2 separate regions of the Homo sapiens genome follow, and region 2 is linked to region 1. The links come from fine-mapping of genetic effects on gene expression. A gene starts in region 1. The other region holds a variant in brackets. All regions are shown on one strand. Distances are between the middles of the regions. Region 1 holds the start of GPR45 (G protein-coupled receptor 45). Region 2 has its middle 37 kb from the start of LINC01918.

What was found. PIP is the estimated chance that this variant, and not a neighbour inherited with it, causes the effect. A credible set is the group of variants that fine-mapping cannot tell apart.
Region 2: its variant is the best candidate, but not a certain one, in a credible set for the expression of GPR45 in testis (GTEx, PIP 0.67).

What each region holds. Positions count from the first base shown.
Region 1 is chr2:105,240,460-105,243,371 of GRCh38, forward strand. It overlaps GPR45 (G protein-coupled receptor 45), which reads left to right and starts at 1,284. Exons shown (of 1, transcript NM_007227.3): 1 at 1,284-2,912. The coding sequence starts at 1,400. The coding sequence ends at 2,518.
Region 2 is chr2:105,179,768-105,182,679 of GRCh38, forward strand. No RefSeq gene overlaps it. Among named protein-coding and RNA genes, the nearest start is that of LINC01918, 37 kb to the left of the region's middle. The variant A/G (reference allele first, on the strand shown) is at 1,566.

The sequences.
Region 1 (2,912 bases):
GCCTCGAACTTCTGTGCTTGAGCAATCCTCCTGCCTCGGCCTCCTGAGTAGCAGGGACTATAGATGGAAGCCTGGCTCATTTTTTTGTGTGTGTAGAGATGGGATCTCTCTATGTTGCCCAGGCAGGTCTTGAACTCCTGGCCTCAAGCAATCCTCCTGTCTCTGCCTCTCAAAGTGCTGGGATTATAGGCATGAGCCACTGCACCCAGCTAACATTGTATTTTAAAAGGCCTTACCTTTGGGGAAAGTTCCCTTCTCCCAGTCTGTGCTTCCAGAAGTAATAGTATAGCAGCCCCACAGTTATCCAAGATGTTACCATTAGGGAAAACTGGGTGAAGGACACACAGAATTTCACCATAGTATTTATTATTATAACTCCATGTGAATTTACACTTATCCATGTGAATTTACACTTATCAAATAAAGTTAAACAAACAGACTTACAATTTCTTTTAAAAAATTAAAACTTAAAAATGTATACTTAAAATTTGCTAAGAGGGCAGATCTTAGGTGAAGTATTCTTACCACCAAAACAAAATGATAATACTAGAAAAATGGCAGGAGAGAGCTTTGGCAGGGGGAGTGGGATATGTTTTTGGCCTTGGTGGTGATGGGTTTCTGGTATATTGAGATGTAAATTTGTACAGCTTTTGACATGTCAGTCATTCCTCGATGAAGTGGGGTTTTTTAAAGCTAAACAAATATTATAGCAGCAGCATCAACTATCACTTATTCATCTACTCAACAAGCATCCAAGTGTCCTCAACAAGGACACTTACTGCATGCCAGCCACTGTTGTCAGTACTGGGAGATAGCAGAGAATGAAACAAGCAAAACCTTTCTCTTGTGGAGCAGGATTCTAACGTTAGTTGGCTAGACCAAGGCTTCATTCCGACAGGTTGCTGAAAACTCAAGTTATTACATAAACACTAACTACAAAGTGTACTTCCTCAGTTTCCTCAGAAGATAGCTGATTAGGTTTTTCTGGGCTGCTTGACAAGACTCAGACAGTATTTGTGAATATCAAGCTTTGTCCCACGTGGTAAATAAACTTGTTTAGAAACACCTGTAAAGCTTAAACGCGTGCTTTCTTCAACGCGTTTGGAAACTCTAACCCCCTTCTCTTTTGTACTTTTGCTTGCTGTCCACTACAGAGGGTCCAAGCACGAAGCTGTGCACAGAGTCGCTCTCCACAGAGATGCTTAGGATGTGATCCATGAATCGCAAATCCCAGCTAGTGCTCACAAAGACGGACATTTCTCCCCAAGACCATTCCAGTGCCCCAGAGGTCCACAGACATCCAGGAAGATGCAGCCAGCAGACAAAGAATGGCAGCCACCCAAGTGCTGAGGGGAGCCCTCCCGGCCATTTCTGTCCCAGCTCCAAGGGTCTCTCCACGATGGCCTGCAACAGCACGTCCCTTGAGGCTTACACATACCTGCTGCTGAACACCAGCAACGCCTCAGACTCGGGGTCCACCCAGTTGCCCGCACCCCTCAGGATCTCCTTGGCCATAGTGATGCTGCTGATGACCGTGGTGGGGTTCCTGGGCAACACTGTGGTCTGCATCATCGTGTACCAGAGGCCGGCTATGCGCTCGGCCATCAACCTGCTGCTGGCCACCCTGGCCTTCTCCGACATCATGCTGTCCCTCTGCTGCATGCCCTTCACCGCCGTCACCCTCATCACCGTGCGCTGGCACTTTGGGGACCACTTCTGCCGCCTCTCAGCCACGCTCTACTGGTTTTTTGTCCTGGAGGGCGTGGCCATCCTGCTCATCATCAGCGTGGACCGCTTCCTCATCATCGTCCAGCGCCAGGACAAGCTGAACCCGCGCAGGGCCAAGGTGATCATCGCGGTCTCCTGGGTGCTGTCCTTCTGCATCGCGGGGCCCTCGCTCACGGGCTGGACGCTGGTGGAGGTGCCGGCGCGGGCCCCACAGTGCGTGCTGGGCTACACGGAGCTCCCCGCTGACCGCGCCTACGTGGTCACCTTGGTGGTGGCCGTGTTCTTCGCGCCCTTTGGCGTCATGCTGTGCGCCTACATGTGCATCCTCAACACGGTCCGCAAGAACGCCGTGCGCGTGCACAACCAGTCGGACAGCCTGGACCTGCGGCAGCTCACCAGGGCGGGCCTGCGGCGCCTGCAGCGGCAGCAACAGGTCAGCGTGGACTTGAGCTTCAAGACCAAGGCCTTCACCACCATCCTGATCCTCTTCGTGGGCTTCTCCCTCTGCTGGCTGCCCCACTCCGTCTACAGCCTCCTGTCTGTGTTTAGCCAGCGCTTTTACTGCGGTTCCTCCTTCTACGCCACCAGCACCTGCGTCCTGTGGCTCAGTTACCTCAAGTCCGTCTTCAACCCCATCGTCTACTGCTGGAGAATCAAAAAATTCCGCGAGGCCTGCATAGAGTTGCTGCCCCAGACCTTCCAAATCCTCCCCAAAGTGCCTGAGCGGATCCGAAGGAGAATCCAGCCAAGCACAGTCTACGTGTGCAATGAAAACCAGTCTGCGGTTTAGGGGGTCAGGGGGCCACAGAGAAGGGGCAGCTGAGCCCCAGTCCCAGGGTGGATCTGTCCTGCTCTGTTCCCTGGCATGTTGGTCATAGTCTGCACTTTGTGGTGGCAATTTAAGCACAAAGGTACTCATTTGTAATCAGATGAGCTGCAGCTCCCAAATTTCAAATTTTGGCACGATGAATTATTTTTGTTTCTCTTTGCAGAGAGCCAAATATGGGGCTGATGGGAACTGCAACGTCATTAAGTCAAAAATGGAGTGGGCTGGGGAGTGCAGAAGTTGGGCAGAAAGGGAGGAGGAGGGCAACAGGGAATGAAGCTGGTTGAGTGTGGGGCAGGAGGACTGGTCAGTCACAAGAGCTTCAACCTGCCCTGCGAGCCCTCTCTGCACCTGCTCA
Region 2 (2,912 bases), 61 kb before region 1:
TAGTTGTTGTCTTTTTAATAAGATTAACCCTTTATACGCTAAGGTACTATTGTGGAAGTAAATGAGATGACTCATGAGAACAACTGGGCTGATGGCCAGCAGTTTGGAGCATTGCTTCCGCTTTGAGTGACCAAAGTGGGAAGAGAACCCAGGTTGCTGAGTCTCTTGAGCTCCTCCAAGTGGTGAAACAGCTGCAAGTCTGTGCTGGAAAAGCATGAAATGGGTCCCATCTTCTCTAAGTCCAAGCAGAAAACGTCCTAGCTTGAGAAGCCACCCCTTGATGTATGGGGGACAGAATAGCAGGGCCCGACGAAGTGTGCTTTAGGAGTGTGGGGGAGGGATTCTAAACAAGCGTTCTGAAATTCTGCCATAGGAAAAATTAGTCCTTTTCTCCTGAGCTTTGAATTTGCATCTTCCGAAATATATGCAGTAACCCAAGTGGTTCCCACCACCCTGGAGACAGTTAACTCATTACAGTCCCTCCAGGACTGGAGGGGCCGGATGGCAGGCAGGCATGAGGCAGCCAGAGGAGGGGCCCCTAGAGGCTGCCTTGTCCCTACGGGCTCTGGTGGGGTTGGCTAAAGCACAAGACCAATGCGGCCGGCTGCAGGATTGGGTGTAGGTCCTCCCAGCTCTCCAAATCTTGGAAGTGTAGTTCTTATTCCTGGTTCTTCTGCTGGGCAAGGCATTCTGCCTCCCTGAACTCAGCTTCCTTCCATGTTGAAGGAGGGTGTTGGGCTGGACAGCGCAGAGGCCCCTTCAGGATCCTTTCATCCGTGGCATCACTAACTAGAGCAGCACTCACCGAGGCCAGAGAAAGGGCTGTCTGCTTTTACAGCTGGGTGTTGGCCTGCCTGTTAAGTTGGGCTTCAAGGAAGAGAAAACTGAGTGAATGGTGGCTTTAGCAATAAAGATGCCTGGTCAACAAAGGGAAGCAAAGGCTCTCGATTCAGGGCTGCCGGCTCCGCAGTGCAGCTGCCGCTGGTTTTCAGCCTTGTGTGGCTTCCTAGGTGCCAAATGGCTGGGCCCCCTCCTACACTATTGTGCTTCATACAGGAGCAAAAATCCTTCCGAAGAGCACCCCGGCTGGCTCCCCTTACATCACAATGGCCAGAACTGGGGCCTGCCCACCTGCCTGGATGTCCGGGTGTGTCCGGACCAAAGCTGAGCTCTGTTGGCAGCAGGAAGAGAGACTCCTGTTGAGCAGGCAGCCTGTTGGCCAAGCCAGCCATATCCACGGCTTCTCTGAGGTTCTCAGGTCAGAATCACGACATTAATAGTGTTATTGCCATGGAAAAGAAAATGAGCTTCAGGATAATCTGCTTTACAATGCCACTTCTGGAAAATTCCACTGGCAAAATGTAGGGCTTGCCTCTATTTTACTCCCTCTCCTAGCAAGGGGCACCTTGTTAGGAATCCTGTTTTGACAGAGCCCAGGGTAGGTTTTGTCATGACTCAGAGGGAAGATGGGGCCACCAACTCCCCTCCCTTTATGAGGAGCCTCTGCCTACTTCAAAGCTGGTGTCCTGAGCTCTGCCACAGGTGAGTGAGACAGAGAAATCCAC[A/G]GAGGTGTCTCCATAGAAACCCCAGGGATTCTGCACTGTGGTCACCCCCACAGAAAAGCATCCACCCTGGCTCCTCGGCCAGGAGCTGGCCTCTGACAGAAGCTGCTTCCTGTTTTCACTGCGTTTCCTCGAAGACTTCAGCTGCTCATCCTGATTTCCTGGTGAAAACAATTTCCCCATCACTAGCCCAGTGTTGACTCCAGAACCCAGGCATGTGGGATGAGACGTCCAGGGGAGGAAGAGGAGGGGTGGAACGCTGCATGACAGTCTACTGGAGAGGAAAGATACGAATGAATGGCAGAGGTGGAGATGGTGTTTTTAAAAAGATAGAATTAAGGCAGAGGGCTCTGCCACAGCCTGCCTGCCGTGTGGACCAAGCATGGGATTTGGAGACCAATAACCCTGGCTCTGACATGTATTAGCTGTGTGATTTTGGGAGCCTCAGTTTCCTTATCTGTGAAATGGAGGTAGCAATGCCTTCTACACAGGGCTACTGTGAGCAATGCGGATACTGTCATTGAAACATTGGGCATGCGATTATTAAAATAACGGAAACATTTTCTGTCTTGAGATACAGTTTAATGTCACTGAAAGAGCATACGCCTTAGGGCCAGTGAGACCTCAGCTACATCCTGTCCTGCTGCTTCCCCTCTCTGGGACCATTGGCAGGTCGCCAGCAAACCTCTCTGAGAGTCTGTAGAATGGGCTAATGCCATCTGCCTTGTAAAGATTAGAGAAGCTATTCTGTTTTAAATATTTATTTTTGTGGGTATATAGTAGGTGTATATATTTATGAGCTGCATGAGATGTTTTGATACAGGTATGCAATGTGTAATAATCACATCAGAGTGAATGGGGTATCCATCCACTTATGTACTTAACCTTTGTCTTACAAACAATCAAATTTATACTCTTTTAATTATTTTAGAATGTACAACTAAATTATCATTGACTATAGTTACCCTGTCATGCTATCAAATACTAGGTCTTATTCATTTTTCTAACTATATTTTTGTATCCATTAACCATTCACACCTCCTCGCTACCTCCCACTACCCTTCCCAGCCTCTGATAACCGTCCTTCTACTCTCTATCTCTATGAGTTCGATTGTTTTAATTTTTAGCTCTTACATAATAAGTGAGAACATGCGACGTTAGCCTTTCTGTGCCTGGCTTATTTCACTTAACATAATGGCCTCCATTCCATCCATGTGGTGCAAATGACTCGATCTCTTCTTTTTTCTGGCTGAGTAGCACTCCATTGTGTATATGTACTACCTTTATCCATTCATCTGTTGATGGACGTTTAGGTTGCTTCCAAATCTTGGCTATTGTGAACAGTGCTGC